3 linked regions of the Homo sapiens genome follow. The protein of the gene in region 3 purifies or fractionates together with the protein of the main gene of each other region. This does not show direct contact. Each region holds a gene or a part of one and is shown on either strand. Other genes may lie near its edges. The genes, in order: OCM, KLHL8 and WFDC1.

What was found.
Region 1: the proteins of WFDC1 (region 3) and OCM purify together in Homo sapiens (affinity purification with mass spectrometry; one large-scale study listed by BioGRID and IntAct). This does not show direct contact.
Region 2: the proteins of WFDC1 (region 3) and KLHL8 purify together in Homo sapiens (affinity purification with mass spectrometry; one large-scale study listed by BioGRID and IntAct). This does not show direct contact.

Annotation. Positions count from the first base shown.
Region 1 is NC_000007.14:5,879,501-5,883,747, reverse strand, and holds the start of OCM (oncomodulin-1), read right to left. Parts: upstream 2,951-4,247; 5' UTR 2,859-2,950; coding exon 2,798-2,858; intron 2,393-2,797; exon of another isoform or gene 2,358-2,392; intron 1,256-2,357; coding exon 1,123-1,255; intron 1-1,122. UniProt on the Homo sapiens protein: Has some calmodulin-like activity with respect to enzyme activation and growth regulation. Binds two calcium ions.
Region 2 is NC_000004.12:87,214,029-87,217,685, reverse strand, and holds part of KLHL8 (kelch-like protein 8), read left to right. Parts: intron 1-3,657. UniProt on the Homo sapiens protein: Substrate-specific adapter of a BCR (BTB-CUL3-RBX1) E3 ubiquitin ligase complex required for The BCR(KLHL8) ubiquitin ligase complex mediates ubiquitination and degradation of RAPSN.
Region 3 is NC_000016.10:84,325,844-84,328,233, forward strand, and holds part of WFDC1 (WAP four-disulfide core domain protein 1 isoform 1 precursor), read left to right. Parts: intron 1-1,038; coding exon 1,039-1,097; 3' UTR 1,098-1,112; intron 1,113-2,390. UniProt on the Homo sapiens protein: Has growth inhibitory activity.

The sequences.
Region 1 (4,247 bases), on a different chromosome or scaffold from region 3:
AAGCTGTAGAAACCAATGGTGGGCACTTCATTTTTAAGGTTTTGTTTGTTTGTTTGTTTTTGAGACAGGGTCTTGCTCTGTCACCCAGGCTGGAATGCAGTGATACCATCATGGCTCACTGCAGCCTCGACTTCCTGGGCTCAATCAATCCTCCTGCCTCAACCTCCTGAGTAGCTGGGACTACAGGTGCACCCCACCATGCCCCACTAACATTTGTATTTTTTTTTGTAGAGACAAGGTTTTGTCATGTTCCCCAGACTGGTCTGGAACCCCTGGGCTCACTCAAGCAATCCACCCACCTCAGCCTCCCAAAGGGCTGGGATTGTAGGTGTGAGCCACAGTGCCTGGCCCATTTTTAAGTTTTTAGTGTTTTTAATTTTTATTTATTTATTTATTTGAGACAGAGTCTCTCTCTGTCACCCAGGCTGGAGTGCAGCTGCACGATCTGGGCTCACTGCAACCTCTGCCTCCTGACTTCAAGCAATTCTTGTGCTTCAGTCTTCTGAGTAGCTGGAATTACAGGCGTGAGCCACTGCGCTTAGCCAAGTTTTTAGTTTTTTAAAGTCCATTTGCCAAAGGAAATCCCTTACATGAAAGAATCTTTGTGGCTGGGCACAGTGACTCACACCTGTAATCCCAGCACTTTGGGAGGCCAAGGCAGGAGGATCACTTGAAGTCAGGAGTTTGAGACCAGCCTGGCAACATAGTGAAGCCCCATCTCTACTCTAAATATGAAAATGAGCTGGATGTGGTGGCAGGCACCTGTAATCCCAGCCACTTGGGAGACTGAGGCATGAGAATCACTTGAATTTGGAAGGCGGAGGCTGCAGGGAGCTGAGATCACCCCACTGCACTCCAGCCTGGGCAACAGAGTGAGGCCCTGTCTCAAAAAAAAAAAAAAAAAAAAGAATCTTTGCACCTGCAGTCTTCTCTGCCCATATTGAGGGCTTTGCATGGGTAGATGTGCGGTCAACTGACTCATGTCCTTTGCTTTAATGATGCTTGGCCGAATGACCAACACCAAGGCTGGCCATTGAAGAAATACTGAGCAACCTGGCCCCCACTGCACCCCAGGCCCACTCAGCAGTGCCGGGTACCAGACAGACTCAGGACAAAGCTTACTTAAGCTCTTCTTCATCCAGGTACCCGCTCTGGTCGTTGTCTATGAACCGGAAAACATCCTTCACCTGATTGGCTGACATCTTGGAGAGGCCTGATGTCTGGAAGAATTTTTGGGGTTCAAAAGTGTCTGGGTCTGAAGAACAGAGAATTGGTTATTCTGACGCTTGTTGGATCACATTCTATGTTGGGGCCAAGGTACTAAAAACACAGATAATTAAAAACACTTCAACAATATCCCTGAGCTACGGGGATGCTCAACTGGTCCAAGATTTTGGGACAGCCAAGACTTGATGGCTCTGTGATGGCATCCCATGTCCCCTCCGCCCCAGTCTTCCCTCCTCCACTTGGTTTTGTCCATTTTCCTTTTCCCTCCTCATCTCTTCTGTGCCTCCCCCTCCCCCTGGCCCACTTTACAGGCTGTGTGGCTGAGCCCCCAGCATCCCTGGTCTAATTGGTAGGGGGAAATGCAATCACTGGATTTCAACAGGCTAAATGGCCTTTGGCGCTTTTTTTTTTTTTTTTTTTTTTTTTTTTTTTTTTGAGACAGAGTCTCACTCTGTCACCAGGCTGGAGTGCAGTGGCGTGATCTCGGCTCACTGCAACCTCTGCCTCCCGGGTTCAACTGATTCTCCTGCTTCAGCCTCCCAAGTAGCTGAGATTACAGGTGTGCACCCCCATGCCCAGCTCATTTTTGTATTTTTAATAGAGACAGGGTTTTGCCATGCTGGCCAGGTTGGTCTTGAACTCCTGACCTCAAGTGATGCACCGGCCTCGGCCTCCCAAAGTGTTGGGATTACAGGTGTGAGCACGACACCTGGCCTTTCAGTGATGTCTTGCTTTCATGTTTAGTAGGTTTCTTTTGTCTTACAGATGTGTAATCGTGTGCTCAGATCCCAGATCTCTATAATTTTAGTTATCTAATAAATAGCAGTTTTCTTCTCTGATTCCATGAATTTTCCAGCCAACCTCTTATTTATTTATTTATTTATTTATTTAGAGCCAGAGTCTCACTCTGTCGTCCAAGCTGGAGTGCAGTGTAGCGATCATAGCTCACCACAGCCTCAACCTCCTGGGCTTCAGTGATCCTCCTACCTTAGTTTCCAGAGTAGCTGGGACCACAGGCACATGCCACCATGCCCCGCTAGTTTTTATTTTTATTGTTATGTTGTAGAGATGGAGTCTTCCTATGTTGCCCAGGCTGGTCTCAAACTCCTGGGCTCAAACAGTCCTCTCACCTTGGCCTCCAAAAAGTGTTGGGATTACAGATGTGAGCCACCATGCCTGGTCTACTTTTTTTTTTTTTTTTTGTAGACAGAGTCTTGCTCTGTTGCCCAGGCTGGAGTGCAGTGGCATGATCTCAGCTCACTGCAACTTCTGCCTCCCGGGTTCAAGCAATTCTCTGCCTCAGCCTCCCGAGTAGCTGGGATTACAGGCACCCACCACCACGCCCGGTTAATTTTTTTGTATTTTTAGTAGAGATGGGGTTTCACCATCTTGGCCAGGCTGGTCTCGAACTCCTGACCTCGTGATCCACCCGCCTCGGCCTCCCAAAGTGCTGGGATTACAGGTGTGAGCCACTGCGTCTGGCCGCCTGGCCTACATTTTGATTTTGTGTTGACTCGCTGGAGGTGCAAAGCTGTGAGGAAATCCCACCCCCGCCTCACGTCCCCTCTACCTCGGCATTCCTGGAGCGCTGCTGCAATGTCGTCAGCACTGAGCACGTCCGTGATGCTCATTTTCTACCTACTCACACAGAATAAATGAGAGGCGATAAGCCACAAACAGGAATGTGCACATCCAGGGGAAACACATCTTCCCAGGCCCACTGAAACTGTATGTGTGTCTAGATTATTTTTTTTTTTAAATTAAGACGGAGTCTCACTCTGTCACCCAGGCTGGAGTGCAAGAGCGTGATCTCGGCTCACCGCAACCTCCGCCTCCTGGGCTCAAGTGATTCTCCTGCCTAAGCCTTCCCAGTAGCTGGGATTACAGGTGCGCACTACCATGCCTGGCTAATTTTTGTGTTTTTAGTAGAGACGGGGTTTTGCCATGTTGGCCAGGCTGGTCTTGAGCTCCTGACCTCAGGTGATCTGCCTGCCTTGGCCTCACAAAGTGCTGGGATGACAGATGCAAGCCACCGAGCCAGGCCTGTCTAGAATTTTTAAAATGTGATAAGCATGGTTTTGTATTAAGTGACGGGACAGAATATCCAAATTAAAACCAGATACGGAAAACACCCCAGCCTTTTTTGTCTCAGAGCCTTCTTTTGAATACATGCCAAAAATGGAAAAAAAAAATGACCCAAAGAAGGATTCAATTGTTTTCTTATAAAAATTATACTGACATAATCAGTCATTTGCATAGGCAGCCGTAAACCATGTTACACATGCACTGGCATTTTCCTACAGCAGCCCGAGAGATGCAATGTTGCAAATTCCACGTGGGAAAGGATACAGTTTGGGCTGCTTGCAGACATTCTGTGGAAGAAGGCATGCACCTGTCCTGAAAGGTGGGAAGCAGATGGATGAAAAGCCCATCTCCCAGAGATTAAAATCCTTCCAGGTGTCAGAGCCACCGGAAAACAGGAGTCTAAGCACCTGAGCCTAATATGAATGCATGCAGTGAAGAAAAGAGTCTGGGGTCTGATGTGTCCACCAGTTACTCACCGTTTTCGGTTTCCCCCCAGGAAGAATCAGGAAAAAGAGTTGAAGGAGCAAAACAACAGATGTGTTTTTGCTACCTTACTGACCTACCTTATATAGGCTAGAAAAAGTGATAGTTACAACCTCTTAGATTTCCTTTTCAAGGATCAAGTGGATGCAGCTCAAATGTCTTGTCTTACTCATGAAACCTCTTTTTTTTTTTTTTTCTATTTATGTCTCAAGGGAATGTGGGTGGGAACAGCCAATTGTAAAAAAAAAAAAAAAACAACAACAAACTTCAACAAACCTTAACTAAGATTTCAATTCTGCAAACGAACCCTGTTGGCAAAGTGTGGAGAAGGTTCTAGATGCCTGGTAAGGTGGAGATGGTGGCCTGAACTAAGACAAACACATACAGGGTGCTCTGTAAGCTGAAAAGGCTCCCCTGATATTAGCAGGTACCGTTGGAGGCAGGCCTGTTTT
Region 2 (3,657 bases), on a different chromosome or scaffold from region 3:
GAGACCTTTCTCTATATTCCAAAAAAAAAAAAAAAAAAGAGGCCAGGCTCGGTGGCTCATGCTTGTAATCCTAGCACTTTCAGAAGCCAAAGCAGGCCAATTGCTTGATCCCAGGAGTTCCAGACCAGCCTGAACAACACGGCGAAACCCTGTGTCTACAAAAAAACAAACAAACGAACAAAAATTACCCAGATGTGGTGGTGTGCACCTGTGGTCCCAGCTACTCGGGAGACTGAGGTGGGAGGATCACCTGAGTCCAGGGAGGTCAAGGCTGCAGTGAGCCATGATTGCATCACTGCACTCCAGCCTGGGTGACAGAGTGAGACCCTATTTCCCCCCACCCCCAAAAAAAGCAAGAGATGAGGGAGGATAAATGTTTCATAAAATAACAAAATGTTGTTTTCAGTCGCTAAAATTCACTTGACTATGTCTTTTTTTTTTTTCTGAACAAAATGGTTTATATTAGCCAAAGAAACAAGAGGGAGTTGAGCATTTTAAATAAATTAATTTTTGTTTACTCATGTCAAGATATGTCTGCAATAAAAATGTCACCCATTAGTCTATTTTTAAAAATTCTGTTTTCTCTGTTTTGAGGAGCTTTTATGGAAGCACCAGACTATAATATTGTTCTGAGCTCACTTCTGGTACTACACAATTCTCTATTAGAATCCCAGATCTCCACTTATTGGCTGTGTGAGCATGGCAAGTAATTTTCTAAACCTCTTTCCTTAGCTGTGGAAGGGGGATAAAAATAATACGTACTTCTATTTTACCAGAATTGAGGATTATTTGGTGTTGTATGTGAAAACATTCTCTAAGCTATAATCAACTATAATATTCATTGATATTACTAGTCACATGCTGTATTTTAAAATGCTGCCAGTACAATTTATTTTCTGGTGGATATTGCTATATAGATACTGTCAGCTGCTTTTTTTTTAAATGGGTTGGTCATGCAAGAAAGTATATTGTTTGGTTTGGTTATGAATGATTTAGTTGGTTCTTATGAGTCAGAGAGAGAATTATGGAAGAGGGTTGGAGGGACCTTGGGAAATTTTCTACTTCATCTCTCTGACTCTTAACCTGAATCTGTTAGCGTGAGCATAAATGGTCTTCCAAGGGTCTGTGAACTCTGTATATTTATACTTTTCTGGGGAGAAATTAAATGAAAATTTATACTTTTCTGGGGAAAAATTAAATTAAAAGAGCATCATGACCTTGTTCCCACTAAAGGTTTAGGAAACCACTAGCTTCAATGATCTAGGCAGGTTTCTTTAGTAAAAATGTTAGAGATTATTTTTAAAATTAGTTTTTTGTGGAAAGGAAAGAGAAACAGGTTATATTGCGGAAAGGAAAGAGAACAGGCTATTTTTGAAGCACTGAGTATCTGTTTTTCTTCCAAAGCTAGAAGTTGATATTTATGATACACTACCTTCATATGAATAATAGTGCTGCTACTTCTACCTGGAAGTGGTACCTTTGATTGATTCATTATCATTAGGCAGGTATTGTCTACTCCTCTCTTCTTCCCCACCCCCAGCCTTGATGGGCAATACAGTGGAGGCAGAGAATGGGACTTTAATACAATCCAGCATGTCAGAATATTATTTAAAATGCCAAAAGATAATTTGGCTTGTTTATTCTAAATTTGGATGTTCTTTGTTTTCACAACAAAACACCCAATGTTAAAGAAAATTAAGTGTTTAATCTTTCAAACTAGATGATGATATATACATAATCTGTTGTATGATATTTCTTGTATATCATAGAGTATAAAATTTTATTAAATCCTAATTGATGATCACTTTGACTTTTAGTACTGCTAGTTTGAAAAGATGGATATGTATGTTTTCAAGAAATTTACAGTTTGCTTTTGTAGATTATATTATAATTTGTGATTTTCATTTATAACATTTAAAACTTATTTGCTTTTTTTGAATTTCTGAATCGGACATACTTTTAAATCTGAGTTTATTCTTATAAGAATAAGCGTTTGGAATTTTGCCCTGTTTTCCTTGTATAATGATTGCTGGGCTATAAGGCTTTACAGTGTAAAACCAAGTTCTGTTCTGGATCAGTTACTAGTAGCATTCCCAAGGCTGGGAGAGTATGAGGTGGATCAAGTGATGCTAAACAAACTTGTGAATGAATCTGTCCATCAAGTAATGTCTTTTTCCTTGAGATCTTTTTTTCCTTTGATATTAATATTTTCATTTAAAGTTGAAATGTTTTTCAAAGTTCAAGGTTCTAAACCAATATTTGGGAATTTATAGAATAAAGTAGCAGAAGTGTGGTTCTTTGTAAAAATAGTCTGAGAAGTCTGAAATAGACCTCAAAGATTAGTAGTAGAGATGAATGCCAATATTGCAGCATACTTTATATATAAAAGATAAGTCACTACGTTGGATCTTTAGTTATTTTAATGCAGAGGATTGCTTAACTTTAATAATGAAAGTTTGAATTAAATTAATTAGATATGGAAAACAAAAGGGAATAATTTCAGCAAAAATTTTACCTATGGGAATCCAATCATTTTAAGATCAGTGATTTGTATGGCTTCTCCTACACTTAAACCTTAAAAAATTCTGGCCGAGCGGGGTGGCTCACGCCTATAATTCCAGCACCGTGGGAGGCCGAGGCAGGTGGATCACTTGAGGCCAAGAGTTCCAGACCAGCCTGGTCAACATGATGAAACCCTCTCTCTACTAAAAATACAAAAATTATCTGGGCATGGTGGTGCACAGTTGTAATCCCAGCTACTTGAGAGGCGGAGGCTGGAGGATCATGTGAACCCAGGAGGAGGAGGCTGCAGTGAGCTGAGATTGTGCCACTGCACTCCAGCCTGGGTGACAAAGCAAGACTCCATCTCAAAGAAAAAACAAAACCAAAAAAAAACCTTTAAAAATTCCTGAAACATTTCCTGTATAGGGAGAATATTATTAATACCACTATTTTGGTTCTCATTGTCATTTACACATAGGCACCTCCATACAGAGATAACATTAATTCTGTCTTTGGCCTAGTGATAAGAGCTTGGGCTTTGTAGTCAGGCAAGTCTCTATTGAATCCTCGACATTGCACTTCATAGCTATGAGACCTTGGTTAGGTGTCTTAACTTCTCTGGGCCTCATTATCCAAAACTGCAAAAAAATAGGAATTTTACCTCTTTGAGTTATCCCAAGGATTGAAATGAATACATGTAAGTATTTAACTCATGATGACAATTATATATATATATATATATATATATATATATATATATATATATATCTGTTATGTGCCAGTTTGTTAACTCATTTAAGTTTTATAGCAATCCTATGAGGTTGATACTATTATTTTCCTCATTTTTACAGATGAGGAAACTAAAGCTAATGAAACGTTATGTAACTTAACCAATATCATACAATGAATATACAACTAATAAGTAGATAGAAGCACCCAATTAATGCTTGCTGTTGTCATTAAAAAAAAAAAGATGACTTAGGGTATTACCATCTTTTCTATAGTGGGTTCCTAATAATTGCAATCTCATGTAGAGCATTATAAAGCATATTTTATTTCTTTGCTGGAAAAAATGTTGATTGCAGGACTGTGTTCCTGACCAAGGACTCAGGATCACATAATTTATAAAAGTAATAACATCTGTTTATTGAATCT
Region 3 (2,390 bases):
ATCCATTCACCCAACCATCCATCCATCTGCCCATTCATCCATTCATGCACATATCCTTGCATTCATTCATCTATCTCTTCTTTCATCCATTCATACATCCATCCATCCACCCATCCACCCATCTACCCATCCATCCATTCACCTATGTATCCATTCATCCATCCACCCATATATCCATCTATCTATTCAGCCATCCAGCCAGCCACTATCCATCCATCTATCCATCCATCCATATATCCATCCGTCCATCCACCCACCCATCTATCCATCCATCCATCCATCCATCCATTCATCTACCCATCTATCCATCTATCCACCCACCCATATATCCATGCATCCATCCATCCATCATTTATCCATTCACCCATTCACCCATCCATCCATCCATCATTTATCCATTCACCCATCCATCCATCCATTCTCCCATCCATCTGATATGTCTTTATCAATAATTTACAGCACATATTTTCTAAGTATTACTCATCAGTCTGTGCTGGGGGTTGGAGCTACATTTGTGAACATGACAGACCCAGTCGCTGCTGTCATGCAGCTAATATCAAGCAGAAAATTCAGACATGAATATAGCCCAAGTGGTTATTTTATGAGAATAGTGACAAGCCTTCCTGACATCACATGCTGGATACTATGAGGACACCTTAGTCCAGGTTGTGAGAAAAGGCTTCCTAAGGAGGAGACATGAAAGCTCAGCCTAAAGAATAAGAAATAGTGGGCAGCAGAATGGCATGTGTGAAGCTCTTGAGGTCGGAAGCAATTTGGCCATCCCCAAAGCTGGAGTGTGTGGTGAGCTGTGGAGGTGGTGGGAGGTAAGACCAGAAACATAGACAGAGCTGGTGACACCAGCTGGGGGGCCTGGGGAGGGAGAGGAGGCACTGCAGGTGGGGACTGAGTGACCTCAGCTGGGGGAGGGAGGAGAGGGCCAGGTCACCAGGCTTCATTTGGCAGTTCCTGGTGAGCCACGGGGGGCATTAGAGCAGGAATAGATACATCTACCCCAACAGAGCTGTGTTCTTTTCACAGAAGGTGACTCAAAGAATGTGGCAGAACCTGGAAGGGGACAACAGAAGCACTTTCAGTAAAGCAACGGCAAGCAGGTGAGTGGGCAGAGAGCAAGAGTCATGGCCAGGGTAAATGTGGGCAGCCAGTGTCCTGGCAGCTTTCACCACCAGGTTGAGGAGCAGGAGGGTGAGAGTAGCGCTTTCCCTACTGGTAGAATTTGAAATTCCCTTCTGCAGTAAGTCCTCACCTAACGTCATCAATAGGTTCTTGGAAACTGACTTTAAATGCAACGACATACTATATGCACTGTATGCCATAGAAGCTTAACTCATTTGTTTGTTTTTTTAAGAGATGGGGTCTCACTCTGTCACCCAGGCTGGAGTGCACTGGCACAATCATTGTTCACTGCAGCCTCAGACTCCTAGGCTCAAGCCATCCTCCTGCCTCAGCTTTAGTCTCAGTAGCTGGGACTACAGACATACACCACCTCACCTGGCTAATTTTTTTTTTGTATTTTTTGTAGAGATGAGTTCTCACTATGTTACTCAGGCTGGTCTTGAACTCCTGGCCTCAAGCAGTCCTCCCACTTTGGCCTCCCAAAGTGCTGGGATTGCAGGCATGAGTCACTGTGCCTGGCCTTAACTCTTGTTTATATCCATTAGCCTATGGTAAAATTGTTTTTGTTATATAGTAGGTCATTTTGCTTAAAGTTGCAGTTTCCAATAAGCTATCCATGATGTTAAATGAGGACCTACTGCAATTTCAAGGCAGGAACGTAGGAGAACTTTGTGTGTGATCAGAAGCAGAAGCAATTCTGTATCCCTCTGAATCAAAAATCCAAGACCAGACTAGGTCGCAACTTTCCTTTTCATTCCTTTGCCTTGATGTCTCCAGGAAGTCTTGTCTATCTCTTCTCATTTCTGTCAAACAATTCTGTTGGGTGCCAACTATCTGATAGTCATGGTTCCAGCCTCTTGGTTGCTCAGCGGTAGTTCATGCCAGGGTGGTATAGTGAACAAATCCCACAGAGCCGCTGCCCTCAGGGAGGCCACATCCTGGTAGGGGACGGCTACACAAGCCAACAGATCAATCAATACAAAGACAGGTGTGGTGAAGAAGTGAACAGGCAATGTGGGGCAGAGTCCCTGGGCAGGAGCAGAGCCTGGGGCAGGGGCTGCTTCGTTTGGGGTCAGGGAAGGCCCTGTGGGGGTTGAAGTCTGAGCCAAGATCCAAGGTGAGAAGGTGCTGCTTGGGGAGGGTCTGGAGGATAGGCGCCCAGGTGGAGGGAGTTGGAAGAGTGAAAGTACTGAGGCAGGAGGGACGCTGGCTTTGGGGAGCCAAAGAAGGCCCCTGGGGTAGACGCAGGAAGGTGG